Linked DNA regions of Homo sapiens: regions 1, 2 and 3 are each linked to region 4. Evidence: fine-mapped expression QTL. A gene starts in region 4. Each other region holds a variant in brackets. All regions are shown on one strand. Distances are between the middles of the regions. Region 1 overlaps DPP6 (dipeptidyl peptidase like 6). Region 2 overlaps DPP6 (dipeptidyl peptidase like 6). Region 3 holds the start of LOC107986750 (a long non-coding RNA gene). Region 4 holds the start of DPP6 (dipeptidyl peptidase like 6).

The links.
Region 1: its variant is fine-mapped to the expression of DPP6 in cerebellum (GTEx, PIP above 0.99). The same link has a PIP of 0.9 or more in cerebellar hemisphere and testis.
Region 2: its variant is fine-mapped to the expression of DPP6 in skeletal muscle (GTEx, PIP above 0.99).
Region 3: its variant is fine-mapped to the expression of DPP6 in sigmoid colon (GTEx, PIP above 0.99). The same link has a PIP of 0.9 or more in esophagus muscle and gastroesophageal junction.

What each region holds. Positions count from the first base shown.
Region 1 is chr7:154,878,444-154,883,443 of GRCh38, reverse strand. It overlaps DPP6 (dipeptidyl peptidase like 6), which reads right to left. Exons shown (of 26, transcript NM_130797.4): 21 at 2,502-2,556. Among named protein-coding and RNA genes, the nearest start is that of PAXIP1-AS2, 48 kb to the left of the region's middle. The variant A/G (reference allele first, on the strand shown) is at 1,978.
Region 2 is chr7:154,429,129-154,434,128 of GRCh38, reverse strand. All of the region lies in intron 1 of DPP6 (dipeptidyl peptidase like 6), which reads right to left. Among named protein-coding and RNA genes, the nearest start is that of DPP6, 380 kb to the right of the region's middle. The variant G/A (reference allele first, on the strand shown) is at 2,074.
Region 3 is chr7:153,520,520-153,528,140 of GRCh38, reverse strand. It overlaps LOC107986750 (a long non-coding RNA gene), which reads left to right and starts at 3,910. Exons shown (of 2, transcript XR_001745034.2): 1 at 3,910-4,132; 2 at 4,316-4,904. The variant C/T (reference allele first, on the strand shown) is at 3,817.
Region 4 is chr7:154,050,220-154,055,219 of GRCh38, reverse strand. DPP6 (dipeptidyl peptidase like 6) reads right to left here and starts at 2,822. Exons shown (of 26, transcript NM_130797.4): 1 at 2,157-2,822. The coding sequence starts at 2,399. RefSeq lists an enhancer at 3,329-3,931.

The DNA of each region.
Region 1 (5,000 bases), 830 kb before region 4:
GTGAATGTGAGCGTGTGTGTGAGCATGTGTATGGGTGAGCATGTGTGTGTGTGTGAGCAGGTGTATGTAATCGTGTGTGTGAGCATGTGTGTGTATGAGCGTGTGTGTGACACCATGTGTATGTGTGAGCAGGTGTATGGGTGAGCATGTGTGTGTATGTGTGAGCATGTGTGTGAGAGCAGGTGTATGGGTGAGCGTGTGTGAATGTGTGAGCATTGTGTGGGTGAGCATGTGTGTGTATGTGTGAGCGTGTATGTGAGCATTTGTGTATGTGTGTGAATGTGTGAGCATGTGTATGGGTGAGCATGTGTGTGTATGTGTGAGCACATGTATGTGAGAGCATGTGTATGGGTGAGCAGGTGTATGGGTGAGCATGTGTGTGAATGTGTGAGCATGTGTGTGTGAGCATGTGTATGGGTGAGCATCCATGTGTATGTGAGTCTGTGAGCATGCGTGTTGGGAGCATGGAGTGTAGAGAACCCAGGTACCTGACTGAGACCGTGAAGCGCAGGTCATGCCAAACTCCAAGATCAACCATTTATGACCTGCACGATCGTTCCGGTGTGTTCCTTTAATAGGGCAGGGGCACCTTGTCTAATGACAATGAAAGAAGATTTTCATTTTCTGACAAATAATATTTATTGTCAGTGAACTCCACACGTCCTTACTTGTCATTCTTCGTTTTCTTTAAATCTCATTTTCCTGCAGGGCCACGCGGCCTGCTCTGGTTTAAATGAGAGACAGGCAATCTTCTGCAGGGGGGATTTTCGGTGTCGGGGGGGAAACTGCAGAACATAACGCACAGGTGCCCCCTTGCTCTCCAGGTCACCTCTGGGTGCAGGGTGGCTGCTGCTCCCCTGGGCTCTGTGTCCCAGGTCCTGCGATGCCTGACAAAGGCTGCAGCCAGATCACTGGGGCACATGCGAGGAGGAAACAGAATGGACAGGCCGCAACATGCCAAGCCACTAAAAGGATTGACGCTTTATTCTTCAGAGGAGAAATACCATTGTGGGGTCTACGGACCTCTATCTAAGGCTTGTTAAAACAAAACAGAGATGCTTATGCTCTGGAAAGACGCCCGGGATCCACTGGGCAGAATGGCAAAGGAAAGATCCCCAGCACGGAGCTCAGACAGATGTCCTCGGCGGAGCTGAGTGCGGGGGTACAGGGTGTGGGGGTGCATCAGTTGTGCTCTGACAGGTGCACAGGGTCCCCTTTCCCTTTGGCACCTCGGCTGCCTGTGCTTCTGGACCAACTGCCTGTTGAGAAAGCCTCTCTGTGTCCAGAAGTGAACTATGAAAGGCCCTGAGTGGATGGACTATATGCAAGGCACAGGAAGGAGGCCAAGCCCTCAGGAGTGGCATCCATGTGCATTTGGGGCAGAGTGACGACTGGAAAAGACTGACCACGGCCCAGGCTCCCTGCCTTTCAGCTGCCAGTCTGCTGGGAAGTCACTTCCATGAGGGTGGGGAGAGGTGATGGCTATTGACACCCAAGTTACACCTACCAATGACCCAGTGGCTTCGGGCCTCACAGGCAGTGAGTGGACATCTAGGCACCTGGAATGCACCTCTAGGGCTCTGTGCCCGGGCTCTGAACAAGGAGAGAAGCCGCCGGCCCTCCTCCTGACCACTTCACCTCCGGCAGGTAAGGAGGAGGTGTGGGAGGGCTCCTGCATCCCCTGCTTCCGGGAGCAGCCCACAGGGCAGGGCCGGGTCTCCAGTGCATGCTGGGCTCTGAGGTTTTGGAGGCGATGACGTAAGAGGCACTGTGCTGATTACTTGTCCAAGCCTTCACCTGCGGGGGTGTCACAGCAAGGCCTCCTCTGCAGGGCCTGTGCTGAGGGTCACTCCCAGAGGGAAGATGGGTCTATACCGACCCATCTGTGTGCTGGCCTTCTTGAGATCAAGAGGCCCCAGGTCTAGGCTAAGGAGAATGAGGGGCCATGTACCAGGGCCATAGTAGGTGGCGGTGCAG[A/G]GACCTAACTCCAAACCGTGGGCCTCAGCTACAGCTGAGCTGTCCCAGGCTACAGCCTTCTGACAAGGGCCACCAGATGGGAGCGGCTCTGGTTTGAGAGTTCACTGCGCGACCCTCCCCACACCTGTGCTTCCGTCTAAGTAGACATGGTAATTAACGTTGTTACTCCACATCGAGTTATCCAGAAATAGATTCCTGCTTTGCTTCTTTCCTGGCTACCATGCCAAGAGCTACAGCAGATGGATGGGAGAAAAGTCATTAGGAATGTATTAGAGCTCTCCTGCGGGGACTTGGCTTCCCTTCTCTTTCCTTCCAGATAATGTAAAAAGAAACTTAGGAAAATGAGCTGATCAAATGAAACCTCCCACGGCTGGAATCACTAAGCACCCAGGCTCTTGATTTTAAAAAATTACTTGCTCACCAGCAGACCACAGACGTTCTCAATAAATCAGGATTAGACGTGGGTAATGGTGCAGGCCACACTGGAACTGAGGGGTTTTCAGACCAGGGTGGCGCAGACTCACCTTCCCAAACACGGCCACGCGCGTCCTGTCAATGTACTGCTCCTTCAGCATCGTCCTGTGAGGTCGAGGAGGGGAAAGAGGGTTCAGTGCACATCCTGCTGCCACTTTGTCTTCCTGTAGCCCAGAGCCATGTTTTCCATCCATTTCAAGGATGAAAACCCCTCTTCAAATAAAAAGCAACCTTAGCATTCCAATATAATTATTTATTGCTTTTATTTATTTAGTGCCAAGTCAGCATGTTCACGTTAAAACCTCAAAGCACCCTTGCAATAACTCTGTAGCACTTCCAGGTATAGAAGCTTCTCGACTGCGAGCCATTAATCCACAGCCGCAGAGCCCCTTCTGGGAGACGCAGCCCCTGTTGCATGGGGTCCATCTGCTGCTATTGGGCCCCCACCCAGAGCCTGTGACTCCAAGCACGCGGGCTCTGGGATGAGCCTTAGGGGTCGGCAGGAATCTGTGGAGCTCTGGTTCTATGCTTCTGGGCTCAGAGTCAAGCCAGTGAGACCCCATCCCACCTGCACAGCCTTCTGTTCCCAATTCCTGGGAGGAGGCCCCTGTCTTGTACCTGTTTGGCCACAGAGGGATTCTTCCCATGAGCTTCCTGCTACGGCCCAGCCTTGGCAGCAGCCGCTTGGTGCTCTGGGCCTCAGTGCTCTGGGCCAGTGCTGCCTGGGTCCCTGCCTCACCCTTGCTGGGACCTTGCCCCGCATTGTGGTCTTCTGCTTCCCCCACGAAGTGGCTGGGGTCCTTCCGGTTTCTGGACCTCAACCAGCAGCAGGACGCCTGCAGGCTGTGGGCTTGTTGCTTGTTAGATGGAAATTATTGTCTGTCTGGATTTTACCTCAAGCCAAGCCATAATGTCAAGTGTGGAGTTAGAGATATTTTTAGACATTTTCTAGTAAAGAGGAGAAAATATAATTTCTTTTCTCAACCCTTATGAGTTCCTGGTCGAGACACTGTCACTGTCCTGAAAATGAAAGTCAGATGAACAAGAGGAAAACCGGAAGAGATTTCCTGGCGTGCGCTGTGCCCTCCACGTGGCGGAGGCCTCAGTTCCAGTGCCTCTTAAGGCAGTGGTGTAGGGGCCCTGTTTACACAGTATTTTAACAAAGAGCCATAACTCTCAGCATAGTGACCAGGCAAAGGAGAGAGCAGCTCCAGTCTTTTATTTATTTACGGTTTTCTTTTTGAGATGGAGTTTGGCTCATTGCCCAGGCTGGAGTGCAGTGGCGTGATCGTGGCTCACCGCAACCTCTGCCTCCCAGGTTCAAGCGATCCTCCTGCCTCAACCTCCTGAGTAGCTGGGATTACACCTGGCTGATTTTTGTGTTTTTTTTTTTTTTTTTTTTTTGAGACGGAGTCTCGCTGTCGCCCAGGCTGGAGTGCAGTGGCACAATCTCGGCTCACTGCAGGCTCCGCCCCCTGGGGTTCACGCCATTCTCCTGCCTCAGCCTCCCGAGTAGCTGGGACTACAGGTGCCCGCCACCTCGCCCGGCTAATTTTTTGTATTTTTTTTTTTTTTTAGTAGAGACGGGGTTTCACCGTGTTAGCCAGGATGGTCTCGATCTCCTGACCTCGTGATCCGCCCGCCTCGGCCTCCCAAAGTGCTGGGATTACAGGCGTGAGCCACCGCGCCCGGCCGATTTTTGTGTTTTTAATAGAGACGGGGTTTCACCATGTTGGCCAGCTGGTCTTGATTGAACTCCTGGACTCCGGTGATCCGCCCACCTGGGCCTCCCAAAGTGCTGGGATTACAGGCGTGAGCCACCATGCCCAGCCCCCAGTCTTTTAAAAGGAGGGAACCTGTGAGAAGGCAATGCAATCTGCCCCCAGAGACCCTGGCAACGGCTGGGACCCTCTCTGGGCTGATGAGCAGGTGCTGTCCCCAGGAAGGAAGGATGGATGTCCTGGCGTCTGGCAAACAGGGGCAGAGGCAGAGAGTCCCTGTGTTTTCAGTATCTTTCACTTAGCAGGTCTCAATATTTTGGGGATAACTATTTTGGCTTCCTCCACTAGCTACGTGAACAAATGAGTAAATAAAAATGAGGCATTTCTGCTGCTCCTTAGCACATGACCCAGGGTGTCTGTGTGTGTACACATGAGCACGTAGGACCCAAAAGAAACAATCGTGAAGAAAATCCCAAGTTGAGCCCAGAGACAACCTGTCTCTAGGAGACAGGAGCCCACCGGCCCTAGTCGGGTTTACACAGCTGCCCGCTGCCTTCCACAGGGGTGGGACGAGCTCCCTTCCACAGCTCATCTCAGCTGCTCGTGGGAGGCTGGCCTGTGGGCTCCTCGGTGAGGATATGGTGGTGGTGGACGGGGGAACTGTGGGAGTGGGAGGAGTCAGGCTAATGTGTCAGCCTCCTGATTTTAGGTTTCCGATCAAATTGGGCTATTTCTTTCTGATGAATGAAAATGCAGACCTCGTTCCTAGGGAGAGCTGAGGGAGGCTTTCTATGGCTTGGCGCCATTGGGCATCAGCTTCCTAAGAAA
Region 2 (5,000 bases), 380 kb before region 4:
TTTTATTTTAATTGTATCAGTCCAGGTTAAACATTATTTTATGACCCAATGTCTTTAAATTGTTACAGGTTTAAAAAGCCTGAAGACGCCTTTATTGTTCTTATAGGTAAAATGGATTTTAAAGAAATAACCACAGTTTAAGATAGACTGAGACCTGAGGCATGTGTTTTAGTCACAACATGTACAACATGAAAGGAAAGACAGAAATCTTTGTTTTACTTCAGACATTGTGTAACAGAGGAAAAGAACGTGTAGGCCTAAAGGAAAGCAAACAGTGATGATTTTGTTGGAAAGTTGGACCTGTAAGGAAACGCGAAGGTAATCAGTGTACTTATCTGGAGAAAAGTGGGCCAGGCCAGAGCTTAATTACTGCCTCCAGATATAATGCATTTGTATAATCCAAAGGATTTTGGACAAAAGAAATAATAATTATCTAGTTCCTAGGACAGAAGGAGAAGACTAATTGACATTATGAGGAGTGTTTGAAATAGCTTCATGTATTTCTCAAAATGATGGTACAAAAATAGCCTTAGAACCCCCGGGTGTGCACGTCAAATGCAGATTCCTGGACCCTCTGAACTGGAGTCTCTGGGGACAGGGTGGGAGAACGTTTGTGTTTCACAATGTGCCCAGTACACGCTTATAAACAATGAAGTATGAGGCCGGGCGAGGGGGCTCATGCCTGTAATCACAGCACTTCGGGAGGCTGAGGCGGCCGGATCACCTGAGGTCAGGAGTTCAAGACCAGCCTGGCCAATAGGTTGAAACCCCATCTCTACTAAAAAAACAAAAACAAAAAAAATGCAAAAATTAGTCAGGCACGGTGGCATGCACCTGTAGTCCCTGTCTCAGCTACTTGGGAGGCTGAGACAGGAGAATTGCTTGAACCTGGGAGGCAGAGGTTGCAGTGGGCTGAGATTGTGCCACTGCACTCCAGCCTGGGCAACAGAGTGAGACTCTGTCTCAAAAAAAAAAAAAAAAAAAAAAAAAAACTTGCAGTCTAGTATGAGAGCCATTACCTACAGGAACTTGTTATATCTGTAACCTGGATAAGTCAGTTTGGTAAAGCCCCTTGCAACTGGTTTAAGAATGGAAGGCTCAAGAGTTTGTGATGGCAATTTTCCAAATGCAAAATTCTGTCCATTAGCACATCATAGACCAGTTTAGAAACATGCCCATTTAGAAACAAGATTCTGATTGGCTGTCTTACAGCCCTTGACTGGACTTATTTAACTACCATATGAGTACACATTATATGAGGGCAGCTTTTCCTAAGTACAATTTTTCTTTTACCAAGTCAAAAGCAACATGGGTGACCAGTGACATCATTATCGAACAGAACTCATGACCTGTGATGCCCACTTCCGTGTCTTGAATGTTTCAAAAAAACTCAAAATTTGAAACCCACGCTCAGCATGCATAAGCTTTGTGGCTAGCACCATAATGAATAAATAAACTGGTAAAAACAATAATGACAATAACCAAACCCAATGCATTATAAAATCCAGTGCAGGTGTTGAAAGCCTGTTCATCTACGTGTGACAGAACACACGGACAAGAGCAGTTTCGGTCCCGATGGAGAAGGGGGTGTGTGTTTCCCCCCGAAAACCCCTAGATCATTGTTAAGAGAAAAGAATCTCTCTATTAAAAGGCTATCTCATTGTCCCACACTGGCCTCTTTTTGTCCAAAATGTTCAGACATGTATCAAGCAACAGATCTCAGGGTACTTAGGGCCATAAATATTTGTACTGATTAATTGTGACTATTATTATTAAATAAGTGACAGCAACATACACATTCCATACCAGAATGCGTGAAAACCATGTTCTTGTAACATAGCAGCATGATATAAGCAATTTTCAAGAGAATCTTCAAATAACATGTATTAGAAAACAGCCAGGCAACTTAGTACATGGAATTCATTAGAGCCTAAATACTTAAAACTAGCTTTACTTAATATTATGGCAGATTAACTGAGGAAAAGCTAAACTACTTGTACTGTGATTTTTGCTCTTCATTTCTTTGAATTATTTTGGACCCGGAAACTGCTTTACTCAGAGCACCTCCTTACC[G/A]TTACCCCCATTTTTTCTTCCAAGGGAAGTGGAGGGTGGAGAGGCCAAGGAGCTGGGCCAGGCTGAGATCAGGGCACAGGAACAGATGCACCCAGCCTGAAACCACAGAGCCCAGGGCTACCAGGAGCTGAGCGCTGTCCTGGATCACTGGGCAGATACCAGGAGAAAAGGAAGGTCCTGAATACCAATTCCAAGGAAGTCGGGTAAGAAAGGGAGAAGGAAAGGCTGGGTGCGGTGGCTCTCGCCTGTAATCCCAGCACTTTGGGAGGCTGAGGTGGGCGGATCACGAGGTCAGGAGTTTGAGACCAGCCTGACCAACATGGAGAAACCCTGTCTCTACTAAAAATACAAAAATTAGCCAGGCGTGGTGGCATGCACCTGTCATCCCAGCTACTCGGGAAGCTGAGGCAGGAAAATTGCTTGAGCTTGGGAGGTAGAGGTTGTGGTGAACTGAGATCATGCCACTGTACTCCAGCCTGGGCAACAAGAGCAAGATTCCATCTCAAAAAAAAAAAAAAAAAGAAAGAAAGAAAGAAATAATAAAAGAAAGAAAAGAAAAGAAAAGAAAAGAAAAGAAAAGAAAAGAAAAGAAAAGAAAAGAAAAGAAAAGAAAGGAAAGAAAAACAGAGCCTGACATGAGGTTTTGACGACAGCGGCTATCTGAGCCTTTGGAGCTGGGGGCCTGGAGTGTTCTTCCACTGTCCGCCTGCCTTTTGTGGGTGGTGTGGAGCAGGCCCTGGGGAGTGGCGCAGGGAAGCAGGGTGGGTCTAGGCTTGCTGGAGCAGCCCTGAGCTGGTGCTGCTCAGTGATGATGTAACTGCATCTTGAAAGACGGCCTTGGCGCTTCCCCCTGGTGGCCTGTGGCTCCCAGCGAGCATCCTTGGCAGCTGTTCTCAGGGCACCACGGTGTTCTGAACACAGGCCTTTGCGTTCCTCCTTCCTCTGAGGACTTCACCAACACTTCCCTTGAGGTGCACTGTCTCTCATCTGAACACAACCAGTGTTGCTCATGTCTTCTCTCTGGGTGCCAATCAAAGTAAGCGCCGTGAGCACAGGACATCATCAGGATCCACCTCTCTAGCACCGTGGAGCCTAGTGACATTTTCACACGTTGAACTTGCAATATTGGTTTCCTGAATGGAAGACTTAACTTAACGAAAGAAACATTCGAATGAGTCAGACATCCCTGGGTTTGCCTCCACCATGTGCCAGCTGAGCTTCCATCCATTAAACTCCTGGAAGCTCATATGTCAGCTGGGAATAACACAGCCCTTGCAGCACTGAAGTGAGGATTAAAGACAACATAAAGAGCCTCTAGCAGAGCGTCAAGCACAGAGTGGGCAGTCAACACACGGTGGCTATCAGCAGCCATGACCTATGCAAACACCACCAAAGGGCACCTGTGTTGCACGGCTGGGGAAGTGCTATGGGCTGAATGTTTGTGTCTCCCCAGATTCATACAATGAAATCCTAACTCCCCAATGTGACAGCACTAGGAGGGGGGCCTTCAGGAGGTAATTAGGTCATGAGGGTGAATGGGCTTAGTGCCCTTCTAAGGAGACTCAAGAGCCTGCTCTGTGCTCTCTGCCATGTGAGGATACAAGAAAATAGCCATCTACAAACCAGACCTGACCACGCCAGCACACTGACTTCAGATTCCCCAGCCTCCAGAATCATAAGGAATACATTGCTGCTGCTTAAGCTGTGCAGTCTGTGGTATTCTGCTACAACAGCCTGAATTGACTGATGCAAGAAGTTAAAGTAAACATACAAAGGGTATCTCTATAGCAGCAAGGCTCCCCAGTTGACTTGCATCATTAAACTAACCCCGTGCCTTAGTGCTGTCTACTCACAGGGAAACGAAAGCCTTGGTCCAGAGATGAGAGGCAGCAGCGTGTTTAAGCATCTAAGGCCGTCGAGGAGCCTGGGGAATGGAGGCGAGCGCAACAGTGCCAAACCCTGAGATTCTGACAGCGGCCCCTAGAAGAGGAGCTTCTCACCTTCAAAGGCTGAGAACTGGGAGGGTGGATGGAAACTTGCCGTCTGACTCTTTGAGGGTGGGAGGCAGGCTTTAGAATATCAGGAAGGATGGCCTGTATTCCAGAAACCAGACAGCACCAGGCCAGGAACGCTCTGTGCTGGTGGTGACCATAATAAATGCCAGGACTGGAATATAATACCCAGCTCCATCTGAAATGTCTGTGACGAGCGCGACCTGCATTGCTGATGTGACATAAGACACGTGGTACTGCTGTGTTTCACCGGCCTCGCTGCACCTCATTCAAGCCCTGCCTAACCCCGGTACTCCAGGGAGGAACGTGGTCTCCACATTAGCCTTGGGTCCTCCTTGACTTGGGTAGCCATTCCGAGGCGGGCACCTGTTTCTCCATATTCAACCATGACAGTGACACATCTTCCTGATAACACTCAAATAAACAGCGTTTGTGTTGTCACACAGCTGTAAGCCTGCCCAGATTGCCTCCCGAGTTCACGAAGCCTCTTGAGTGTGTTACCCAAGAGGGTTATTTTATGTGGCTGTTAAAAGCGATGCTCTGTCGTAGTGAACCACAATGCTGAGAGACCCAACTCCAACAATCAAGAAAGAGAGGCACTAGAGGCACTGTGCTTTCCAATACATGAGAAGTTTTCTTCCCTTGAAAGGTGAATGGAAAGGCTGGGACTTGGCAGACGTGGGTTGGGTTGTAGGTCTGGCTGCCCACCCATCTGTGAAGCTAGGTGGTCAGAGGAGCGTCAGCAAATTCGTTAGGCCTTGCTGTGCTCGCACGTGGATTCCACTGACCAGCTGGATGGATTTCCCAGAACTCATTCATTTGATCAAAACAAGGATAAGACAAATTATGCTTTTTTTTTTTTTAACAGATTAAGAAGCAGAAGCTCAGAGAGGTTAAGAGACTTGCCCAAGGTCA
Region 3 (7,621 bases), 530 kb after region 4:
AATTCCCTTAGACTGTAAGAGAGAACGTTCCTGACTGAAATTGGCCAGAAGCCCCTCTCAAGTTTATTCTCCAAAATAAACCTGCCTTTGACTGTTAAGCTGCTTTTCGTGTTTCTTTCCTCTTTCTTTAACTCTTATGCTGAGGCCTCCCCAGAAGCAGATGGTGGTGTCATGCTTTCCGCACAGCCTGCAGAACCATGAGTCAATTAAACATCTTTCCTTTGTAAATTACCTGGTCTCAGGTGTTTCTTTATACCAATGCAAGAACGGCCTAAGACAGCATGGGCAGTATGGCTTGACTACAGGAAAAGGAAGGCAAAGTGGTCCCATCCTAAGAGAAACAAAGGTCATCAAGCCACCGACTCCCCAGGCTTCCCCTGAGGCCCCTGCTCCCCTTACAAGTGGGAGCCTCTTTGCCCCTTTCCAGCCCCCACTACCTTAATTCTCTAGCTCCATCCTTCTCTGTCCTTGGATTAATCCAATGAATCGAGTACAGGTTTGAGCATCCCTAGTCCAGAAATCCAAAAATCAAAATGCTCTAAAGCCAAAACTCTTTGAGGACTGACATGATGCCACAATTGGAAAATTCCACATCTGACTTCATGTCATCAGTCTCAGTCAAAATGCAGTCAAAACTTTATGCACAAAATTCTAAAAATATTGTCTAAAGTTCCCTTCAGGTGATGTGCTTGAGGTGCATATGAAGCATTAATGGATTTTCTGTTTAGACTTGGGTCCCATCCTCAAGATATTTCATTAGGTATGACACAGATGTTCCAAAATCCAAAAAGCGTTTTGGATAAGGGAGCGTCAACCTGTTCCTCCATGCTGGATGCGATGAGCTGGATTCTGGGAACACAGGGAACAACCCAGCACATTCACACACAGAGCTGCAGTGAGAAGAGGCGCTGGGTCTACGACAGCAGGAGGGTCACATGCAATTCTGGCCCTGCCATGGCTCCAGGTTGTGCTCCAAGGTCGAATGGGGGCTTATTTGCATCCAGAATTCCCCAGGCAATATTCATCTCCAAGTGAGGTCACACACACAGCAGGCTGCGCTTTCTCCCTGCCAGGCCTTCTGTCAGGGCTTCCACGGTGGACGAGCTCCCACTCCGCCATGTGTCCTGTTTCTGTCCTGCACGAAGCCCCCGCCACTTCTCTATTCCCTCCCACACCCCAGTTGTAGTCCTTGTGGATCCCACCTCCACAGCTTTGCCCATCTGCCCCCACCGCCCTCATCGTGCCATCTCAGTCAGGGGCTCTCATCCTGGGCAGACCCCGCTCATCCTGGAGGAGCCACAGCTCGACCTTCCCCACATCCTGAGATCCCCGACTATGTAGTGGGGGACGGAGAGGTTCTTGGGCATTTAGTACAAGACTTCAGGGTCCTCTTACTGTTTCACTGGTACAAATCTCAGCTACCAACATGATTATAACCCCTATGGTTAATTTAATTTGTTGTTTAAATCCCACAGGAAGAGGCAGATTATGCAGTCGTCTTCAAGGTGATGAATAAATACCCAAATTCAATGGAAAGCAAAAAGAAAACAGTAGTTGATACATAGTAAGCCATATAAAAGTGATTTATGCAAATTAACCTATTTAATCTTCATAATCCTATGGAATATGCACAGATAGGAAAATGACGGCACCAATATGATGGGTTAAGTGGCTAATGTCAGACCACTAGAAAGTGGTAGAGTTGGGATCTGAACTCAAGCAGGATGGCTCCAAAATCTGTATTATTTACCACTATGTTCTACTGCTCTCTTGATTTTTCATCTTGTGTGCAGCCCATATAAATATATATAAGGCAAATGTTGGTTGCTATAGAGTTCAGAACTAAGTATTACTTATAAATGTAGGAACTTTCTTCCGCTAGAATCTCTGGATGTAATGTTCCCTTTCTTTCCCTGGTAAAACTCTTTTTAAATAAATTATTCTGTGTTAACATTATTTTTAAAAGGAGGCCAAATGTGCATATATCTGTGCAATCTGATTTGCAATGAATATATTTGTTTATTCATCTATTCAGCTGTTATGCATTGAACATTTACTACATACGCTCACTCTGCTGGACACTAGGGATATGAGCAAAGTGCTATTTTTTGTTTTTTTGTGAGTTTTTTCTTTAATCTTAAGGATGCCCAATTTAGCCTCAAGGATATTCACAGTAACCACAGGCTGAGCACTTACTGTATTGAATGTTGTGCATGCATTATCTCATTTAATCCTCATAACCACCTTGTGGGAGAGTTACTATTATTCTGTCAACTTAACAAATGAGAAGACCAAAGATCAGAGCAACTAAGGGGCCTGCCCAGTATTGCAGAGATCATAGTTGCAAGGTTGGGATTGGGGCCCACGTGTGACCAACACCAGCACTCATGACCCTCACCCCTGCTCTGGATCCTGAGAGATGGCTCCTGTAGAGAGAGGTCTGTGACTGTCTGCATCGTGCCTGGAGCACACAGTGGGGTGGAGAAAGTGCTCTGAGGACCTGGAGGATGGAGTGAGGCATGCTGCCAGGAAGGCACACGGGTTTCTTTGATTGGGATCAGTACTCTTCTAGGCTCCCGTGTCTCACTGGTGAAATAACAGTGTTATCTCGGACATTCAAACCATCTTCTCACAGGGTCTCGGTTTGCATATGTGATGTGCCTGCCACTGCCAATTCCATCCTTCTGCTCCCAAGTCCAAACCCAGGATGCAAACAGTGGGCATGGAGGACTAACCTTTTAAAAAATATTTCACAAATTGCCGTCTAAATAGGATGATTCTGCCCGAGCTCTGTGCCACTTTCCCCTACAGGAAAACTAGCTAGTTCTTGAAACAATGCCTTATTAAGTTATAGTCTATGCCATTTCATTAAAAAGAAGTCATATCCTACTCCAAGTCACCTTCTGAACCATCAGGGGCTTGTGGACTGAGACCAAGTGCAGTGGGTGACCCTCAGCTCAGTCACAATTTGTGTGGATAGACCAGGGAGCCCACCATGCCTATAGCAGAGCTCCTACACCAGGGCCCAGCTGAGGCGGTGGATGGAGTTGCTGCTCAAGAAGCTCAAGTTGGGAGACACCCCTGCAGCAGCAGGAGCACTGAAAGGAAGGTCCAAAGACTTTCTGAGATGACAGGTCTTCTGCAGGTCTGCAATGCCAGCCATCTTTGTGATTCTTCTTCACTGAATCAGAATGACGGCTTCCTCAGATTCACTGCATGGTTCATTGGAAGGCACTAGAGGGCTTCTCTAGGAAAGAAGTGTTACCCCCAGAAACATGGCCCCTGAGTAAGCACTCTGGGGCCGCCCCTGTAACACCACCCTAGTAGGATTTGAGGAACGAATAAGCCAAAGGGGGAAATCATATATTAGCTGACATTTTATATTTCCTAACTTTGCTTTTTTTGCTATTTGAATGCTTCCTCCTGGGGAGTTTTAATGTGACTTTGTTTAACCTTTGACTACTGTTGAGCTCTGAGCATACTGAGGACCAGGATGGCATCTGCCCACTCCTTTCTCTCATTCTAGGAGGATATGACCTTGTATGATGGGGCTGTGCCAGGGCAGAGGATTCATACACGGAGCTAGTGGACCAGCTACAACTCTCTCCCTCCACCTCCTCCTTGGAGAGGCTCCAAAAAGCTCCCTCCCACCCTGTGAACACCTAGTACACAGGCGGCTGTTCTTTTTCTTTGGAAGTTGCATAAACAGCATCTCCCTAACAGGCAAAGCTCTCATTAGCAGTGTGTTCCTGTCAGCCGCCTGAAGTGAGAACATAAACACAGTCACCAAAACAAACGCCACCCCACTGGCCTCAG[C/T]CCCTGGTCTCTGCAGAGGTGGGCGGGGGAGGCCAAGAACAGGCTTAAAAGGAAAGGAATGGTCCTCTGTTTAAAGGCACGGGCCTGCTCTGCATTTGGCGTGCATACCCTGAGGCTGTTCAATTCATTCCTCCCCACTCCCCGTCTGTCTTGCTCCCTGGCTCACACCCTGGATTGGCACAGAGGCGGTGCTGCAGGGAGCTCTACAGAGGGCTCCTGAGGCCATGCCAGGGTCAGAGCAAGCTAGGGAGGGCAGAGACTGGGAGCGCTTGGGTGATCAGCTCTGACTGAGGCGCCGTCAAGGCTCCAGTCACAGGTATGTAAGAAAGCCCACATTATGGGGTGAATGGCGTTCCCCCCAAAACGCATGTGCTGAAGTCCCAGCCCCTGGCACCTCAGAATGGGACTGTCTACGGAGATAGCGTCTTTTAAAAAATAGCTAAATTACAATGAGGCCATAGGGATGGGCCCTCATCCAACCTGACTTGTGTCATTATAGGAAAAGGAGATGAGGACACAGGCACACACAGAGGAACGACCATGTGAAGACTCAGAGAGAAGACGGCCTTCTGCAAACCCAGCAGGGAGGCCCAGGAGAAACTGACATCTCGATTTTGGACTTCCAGCCTCCAGGATTGTGAAAAAATAAACTTCTGTTGTTCAAGCTGTCCGTCTGCAGGAGTTTGTCGTGGCAGCTCCAGGAGGCGTGGGAAGAGAGCTTTCCAGTGCCTCTCCCTCATGGGGAATTCTGCCCACCTCTCCCTCCACTGGCACTCACACTGGCATGTTCCTCCCCATGCCCAGGCTCCCGATGGACCCAAGCCAGCTTGCCTGCCAAGCAAATCAAGCTCCATTCGAAATTCTTAAATTGGCGAAACCAAGTAGACTTTAAGGAGGGCCCAAGACAGTTCTTCTTATTCCCGCAGTCCCAGCACGATGACTACTGCGTTTTTTCACTCCTTAATCCTGTTTTGCATGATAAATTATGTAATCAATTCTGTCTCCATACTTTTACCTATGCCTGCTCCTAAGCATCAGAATACTAAGTAATTAATAAAAGAGAATAAATCATTCTACTCATTTTTGAATACCGACATTCAGTTTCTTTTCAGTGGGTTAGGAAATGTGACATTAATCACAATATGTTGAAATTATTTTTTCAACATGCCATTAGATCTACTGTTGTAGTTCGGTTTCGTGAAACTAAGAAGACAAATCCCTCTTTCCTAGGAGATTCTTGGACAAAAATGAGTCCGTTCCAAGTCTTTCGGTCTTGCCTTAGGTTACACAGCAGCAGAGTCAGAACTAAAATTTTTGTTTACCTCACTTGTGAGCCAGAGTTCAAGATTATTTTTATCTTTTGGGGGGTGTGGGCTGTAGGCAGAGAGGATGAGTATTTTTTCTGTTTGTTCATTTGTTTGATTGGTTGGTTTTGACTGAATACTTGAAAATAAAGATAGCAGATCTCACCCTGATAGGCTCAAGCGTGGAAAGAATACTTCTTTTATAAAAAAAGAAAGGAAAGAAAAAATTTGAGCTGCTCCTGAGCATAAGCCCAGAGACAGGATTTGCCAGTTTTTTTTTCTTTTGCCTTTTTTCTTGCCTCCTGTTTTACTTCATGATGGTATATGGATCATTTGCCTGTGCAGAATCTTGTTGGAGATTTGAAACCCATTAAAAGGTTCTGCACTGTCCTTGTTCTTCTGTTGTTTCAAATTCCAGAGGGAGGAGTGAGGTCAGGCTTATATTAGCTCTGAGTCAGAAAAGCAACTCCGAGTACAAGCATGGAGGCAGGCGCAGGACTCCGATCTCCCTCTGCTTTATAAGGCAGCGAAGGCAAAAGCACGCAGCAGATGTTGCTCCTTGGTGATGGATGGTCCAAGAGTGTGCAGAGACTTGTAGCCAGCTGGCATGAGGGGTGGCCTTGACAAGAGTGGTTAATAATTGCTTGAAGGAAAGCAGTTTTCAGAATGAAGAACATCATGTTCTAATGAGGAATTTAATACCTGTGAACTTTACTAGAAATGGAACAATAAGGCTGTCAGAAATGGGTGCAAAATCTTCAAGAGCAGCTCACAGACTGGGAGAGATAGAACAGGAGAGACAACATGACCATGTTGATGCTGAGTCTATATTATTGCAACAAGATATATTATTTGCAACTTTTTTTTTGTTTGTTTGTTTGAGATGGAGTCTTGCTCTTGTTGCCCAGGCTGGAGTGCAGTGCCGCGATCTTGGCTCACTGCACCTCCACCTCCCGGATTCAAGCAATTCTCCTGCATCAGCCTCCTGAGTAGCTAGGATTACAGATGCCTGCCACCATGCTCAGCTAATTTTTGAATTTTTTGTAGAGATGGGGTTTCACCACGTTGGCCAGGCTGGTCTCAAACTCCTGACCACAGGTGATCCACCTGCCTTGGCTTCCCAAAGTGCTGGGATTGCAGGTGTGAGCCACCATGCCTGACCCCTATTTGTAATTTTTAACAACTGTTTTGGGATGTAATTTAACCCCACTCCACCCACTGTAAGGGCACAATCCAATGACTTTCAGTAAATGTGTGCAGCTAAGCCATCCCTACAATCCAGTTTGCAGCATTTCCATCACCCCAAAAATTTCCCATCACCCTCCTTGCAGTCAATCAATGCTCCCATCGCCAGCCTCAGGCAACCACCAGTCTGCTTTCTGGCTCCGTAAACTTCTATTTAATAAGGATTCTTTGTGTCTGGCTTCCTTCACTTAGCATGTTTTGGAGTTCTGTCCATGGTATAGGAGGTGTCAGTAGTTCCTCTTTTATTGCTGAATAATAATGCGTTGCATGGAGATACCAAATTCTGAATTCACCAGGTGACAGATATGTGGGTTGTTTCCAGTTTGGGCCGCCTTGAAGAATGCTGCCATGAACGTTCACATACAAGTCTTTTTGAGGATGTATGTTTTTATTTATTGCAAGCAGATTCCTAGAAGCGTAATTACAAGGTCTTTGGGAAGTTTATATTTACCTTTTTAAGAAACTGCCACACAATTTTCCAAAGTGGCTGTTCCATTTTACATTGTCACCAGCAATGTATGAGGTTCCTTTTTTTTTTTTTTTTTGAGACGGAGTTTCACTCTGTTACCCAGGCAGGAGTGCAGTGGCCAGCACGATGTGGACTCACTGCAACCTCTGCCTCCCGGGTTCAAGCAATTCTCCTGCTTCAGCCTCCCGAGTAGCTGGGATTACAGGTACCCACCACCACGCCCAGCTAGTTTTTCGTATTTTTAGTAGAGACAGGGTTTCATCATGTTGGCCAGGCTGGTCTCAAACTCCTGACCTCAGGTGATCCATCCACCTCGGCCTCCCAAGCTGGGATTACAAGCGTGAGCCACCGTGCCCGGCCAAGGTTCCAGGTTTTCTAAATGTAGAAGTATCAACTTTGTATTGTGTGTCTTTTTAAAAATTGTAGACATCTTTAGTGGGTGTGAAGTGGTTTTCATTTCATTTCTTTAATGTTTATTGATGTTTAACACCTTTCCAAATGCTTAGTAACCATTTATATGTCTTCTTTGGTGAAATGTCACTCAAGTCTTTTGCCCATTTGTAAGTCGAGTTGCTTGTTGCTATCGTTGTTGTTGTAAGTATTCTTTATATATTTGGCATATCAATCTTTTATCAGAGGTATGATTTGCAGATATTACCTAATAGCCTGTAACTTACCTTCGAATTTTCTTATGGTGTATTTTGAAGTGCAAAATCTCTTACATTTAAGAACTGAAATGTAAGAACAGCTGCCTGCTGTTGCTAATCCCTTCTGTGGCATAAGGTCA
Region 4 (5,000 bases):
CCAGATATATATGTGCAGATAATGGGCAAGTATATATGTGTGCATATATATATCGGGAGTACACTATATAAACACACAATACACGCCCACCCACACACATTGTGTATTTTCCAGAAAAAAAAAAAAAAAGCATGTCAGGACTTACATCTAAGTTAGAGATGCTGTTTAGAACCCCATTAACAAATGTACATGTTATATCCCTGATTTGTTTCTCAGGACACCTGTGTTTATCTGAGAATCATTTCTAGACACATGTCACAATAAAAAGAAGGACATGTATACTCCAAGTTAAGATTTTTTTAAAAAAAGATGGAGATCATCTGAAATAAAATTCAGAGCTCTTGCCTTTCCTTTCTCCTAGCGACACCTAGAGCCTGTTGAGAAAAAAACTGCACATTGTTCTCATTCCAAACATCCACAATTCAACAATTTTAAGTCAGATTTAAGGTAAAAAGTACATTTTTCCTGTTTGCATTGCAGCTTAACTGTCTTCCCCAAGATTCTCGGTAGTTTAATCCTCCAGAACTCTTCACCCTCCCCCAATTAAACCATTTGCCAAAGACTTGAACCAGATGACTGAAGGATCTGTCTATTTCCCTCAGGGCTTGGCCCACCAAAGTGAGGGACATGCCTTTGAATGACTATTTAACCAGGGGAGTCTGGAAACGATGCAGGAGAAAATCACAAAACCTCATGCAAAATCTGACGCAGGGCTGTAGGGGGTGTGTACCTGTGTGTGTGCAAACCACATCTCCCACAAAGTTTTGTGATCTCCATTAAAGTTTCCACATCCTTCATTCATAAAACAAAAACTACCAATAACAACAGCAAAACCTCACTGATTTCATAGTATCTGGCAATTAGGAATTGTCCCTGGGAAATCACTCAATGTCTCACCCCTCCCTCGACCCAAACACAACTCTTGCACTAAAGAAATACGAAACAGGGAACCAGCGTGGCTGGAGGCTGCAGAGAGGTAATGACCAAAACCACCTACTCAGTGCCCGGCAATGTACTGCCCTGGGTATGTCAGGGTAGACTAAGTGAGAGGCCGGTGGGACCCCTGCGGTTCCCAGGTTGAGCAGTTGTGAAACTCCTCAAAGGCATACATAGTAATTTCTACAAACCAACACAGCCTAGCTGTTATAAGAGCTGTACCAGCCAAGCCAGACCTGTTTCTCTGAGAGCCTGTCGGGGATTTTTCTCTTTTCCCTGGGAAAAGAAGGCCTCAAAGAAAAAGCACAGTTTCCTCCCTTCTAAGTCCTAGCAGCCCTCTGCATCCTTGAAAGGGATCCACAGGAGGTGGTTAAACGCATCCATCTAAGGTCCGGCTCCTGTCCTGCATGAGTCATTGGTTACTAGGGCGATGTGCAAATCCAACCTTTGAAACCCAGGCTTCCAGCCCCCATGAAGAGTAGGAAATGTGCTCTCGGAGAAGTTTTCACTGAACACGGTCTAAGGCAGAGGTGCTAGTCCAGGGCTGGGAGGGGAGACAGACACGGCCTGAGGGCTCTCAGCAAAAGAGCTGGGCCCTGGGACAGAGGGTTGGGGCTCAGATGCCAGTATTTTGGTATTTTTTTTTTCCGGAAAGGATAATCACCATCACCACCGCTGGGGGGAAAAAGTGTCTAGGAGAAGTAAGAAGAGGAACGAAGGAGAGGCATTTGAGTCAAGGGACAGAGTGAGTAGGAGAGGAGGGGCACGATGGAGAGATTCCAGACACAGGTGGGAGGGAGAGAAGGTGCCTGAGGCTGTGTTCCCGGAGCACGAAATAAATAAAAAATAAACCAACTCGTAAGCACAGGCCGATCGAATTCTCTCCTTAGGAACCATAGCAGCATGCTGTTAAAAACAGACATCCGCGCACCCAGGGAACGTAAGGCGAATTCCAGATCCCAGCAGGCGCAGTACCCAAACCCCGCTCTCTCCAGCCACCAACTCCCGGCCGCCGCGGCTGCAGACACAGACCCGCTCCCTCCGGGACGCGGTGACCGCGATCTGGCGCCACGGAGCCTGTCTGGGGGCGCCCGGAGAGTCGTGGGCGGGGGGAGGGCGCCTGATTCCCCCCCCAAAAAAAATTTCCCCTGCCGACGCGTCTCGCTGCGCGCTCAGCCCGGAGAACCCGCCGCCGCCCCCCGCCCCCGAGAAGCTCTTACGTCCTCCTCGTCACCATCGCTCCGCGCCTGGTACTGGAACCGGGGCCGGCCACCCGCGCCGCCGCCGCCGCCGCCGCGCTCCCGGGGCGCCGCCGCCTGCGCCCGCGGGCCGAGGGGCTTGGCTCCTGCGCCGCCGTCCTCCTCGGGCCCCTGGCCGCCCAGGAGGTGACTCGCCTCCGGGGGCGCGGGGAAGGACCTCGAGGTGTTGATCTTGCCAGTGAACCTCTGGTACAGCGAAGCCATCGGGCACCGCGCTCCTGCTGGCTGTCTTTGGGGCTTTTTAATATTTTGCTTTCTCTCCGGTTCCCACTCCCCACCCCGCTCCAGATTAAAAAAAAAAAAAGGCGGTGGGGAGGCAGCAGCAGCAGCAGCAGCAAGGCAAGCCCAGCGCCGGCGGCCGCTCCTCCCGCGCGCCACTCGCGAGTCTCCGCTGGCGACTCTGCCTGGCTCAGCCTCCTCCGCCCCCTCCCCGGCGGCTCGCGAAGCCGGGGCTCTGGCTGTGCTTTCTCTCTTTCCTGTTTTTATAATTTTTTTCCCCAACTCCTTGCCACAGCCACGTACGGCCTAATCAAAGAGATTGAAGGAAGAAAAAAAACCAAAAACATAAAGCGAGGGAAATGCCTAGGCCCCAGAATTTGGCACCACCTAGAGACCGGCACACATTCCGAGCGCTCTCCTCGCTCCCCGCCCCCAGGCCCCTCGCGCAGCTCCTCCTCCACCCCGGCCCCTCCGCCCCCTTCCCCACCGGCCTCCTCCCCGCGCCCGGGACTGGCACCTGGGTGGCAGGGGTTGGCAGCCCGGAGAGGGCACGGGGTCGCACAAAAGGGTGCGAGGGTGCGTGAAGAGGGTGGAGGGGCTGGGACCACGCGGGTCGTGGGTGCGGGGGCGGTGGGGGAGTCCCGGGAGCTCAGGGTGCTGCGGCCCCACCGAAGGTAGTGCTGCGAGTGCCCCGCAGCACGCGAGCGGACGGTGCAAGGGGATGCGGAGGTCGAGGCAGGCAGGCCGGCCAGGGGGCGACTGAAGGTGCAGCCGGCCCCGGGGCGCCCCAGCCACGCACGCGCTGCGGCGCCGGGCTCCCCGCGCCCCCAGCTCCTCTTGCCTAACTTGAAGCAACACCAGAGACACCCCGAGGACCTGGGGTGCGAATGGGGCGTGGGAGAGCCACCAGGAGGGCGCGGGGTGGTCGGACGACGCTGGTGAAGAGGCCGCCCTCCCTCCACAGCCCAGCTCCCTCCGAAACCGCCCCTTCCCTTCGCCTCTCTCCGGAGGAGGGCAGGAAAGGTCGCGGGGCGGCAGAGGACGCCCAGAGGCCCAGGCGCCCCTCGCGGGCGATGCGCCCCGCAGAGAGCCCGGCTGTGACCGCGACTCCATTCTCATTATCATGAACGCAGGCGGAGGCTCGGCTCTCCGGCTGCCCGCAACTTTTCCAAAGCCTGCGCCTCACTGTGCCCGCCGAGAGCGAGGGAGGGCGACATGGCTCCACTCGCCGCGCGCTCTCGGGCTTGCCTCCTGCCCAGCCGCAGGAAGGCGCGCTCCAGCGCCCCTGTGTGGACACCCGCACCAGCGGGCTCCGCTCCTCCGCTCCAGGCCCGGCCTGGCTTCTCTTCCCCTCCCGGCCCTCCCGCGTCCTCCCCGGCTCCCTTCTGCACTCCTCTCCGTCCTTCTGGAGTTGCTGGGCACGCGTCTCTCTCGTCTCGTCCCCACGTCCTCCTTGCGCGCCCCTTCCAGCCCTTCCCGGCCGGGAAGGACCTATCACATCCAGAGAGTGAACGTGGGCCGGGAAACCCCAACTCCAGAGGGGGGAACCTGTGAGACCCGACCCTGCCCATTCCGCCGCCTCCTTCCACATGGAGGTAGGGCGTTGGCTTCATCTCCCAGGACTGCCTAAGGCTCCCTGCTCCTTCCGGGTTTCCATGCCTGTTTCCACTTAGGGTTTCAAAATAACAGCCTCGGCTGCCACTCACAAGGCTGACTGCAGGCTCGCCCCCAGCCCTGGCATTGCCCCAAGCCCAGAGAGAGGCCTGCCTGGGCCTGAAACTGCATGCTCCCTCTGTTTCCCTAACTGCGGGGGAGAATACTGGATGCCGGTGAACAAGTCTCCTGGGAAGAGACCTCCTTCAGTCCCTTCCACCTGCCTCCCTTCCCCAAGCTTTCAATCCAGTGTGTAGTTTTTGGTTTAACCAAAATTTGTACCACGCTCATCTTCTGTTTACTCCACAGTAGTTACCCTTTACTATGAAGAAACATGAGTTTAAAAACACTTTAAAAAATAGCAAATACAAAACCAAGTAAAACCAGGATTGCAACAGCTAAGCGAAACTTGCTGCATGGGAGAGGCCAGGCAGGTGGGTCTGGGGTGGGGAGAGCTTCAGCTGCTCCATTTGACTTTGAAGACAGAGGCAACAGAGCCATAAAACTAAACTTTAAAAGTCACCACAATTAGATAGATAGAAAACCTTGCTCTCAACCCCCTCCTCTGCCCCAGCTGTGCTTTTGATGGGAGGAAGCTGCCTCTCCTAACATGGACATGAAAGAAAGCTCATGCTATTCACCGCAGCATCGCGATCCTGACATTTCACTAAATATAGATGCAGTTAGGGTCCCACTTATGTAATATACATACGCTATCTATGAAATATGCATGCATATTTTTACACAAACTAAATGTCATACTAATATAGTTTATACAAAATACAATGATAGATGTGTGCATATTAATCATAGATAGAATACTATTGGGATAAAGCATATGTGCCACTTTTAAAAACTATATTCTCAAGGCATTGTAGGTAACTGTAATCTAACTAAAGTTTAAAATCTCAATTAAATTATCTAAGAAAATAT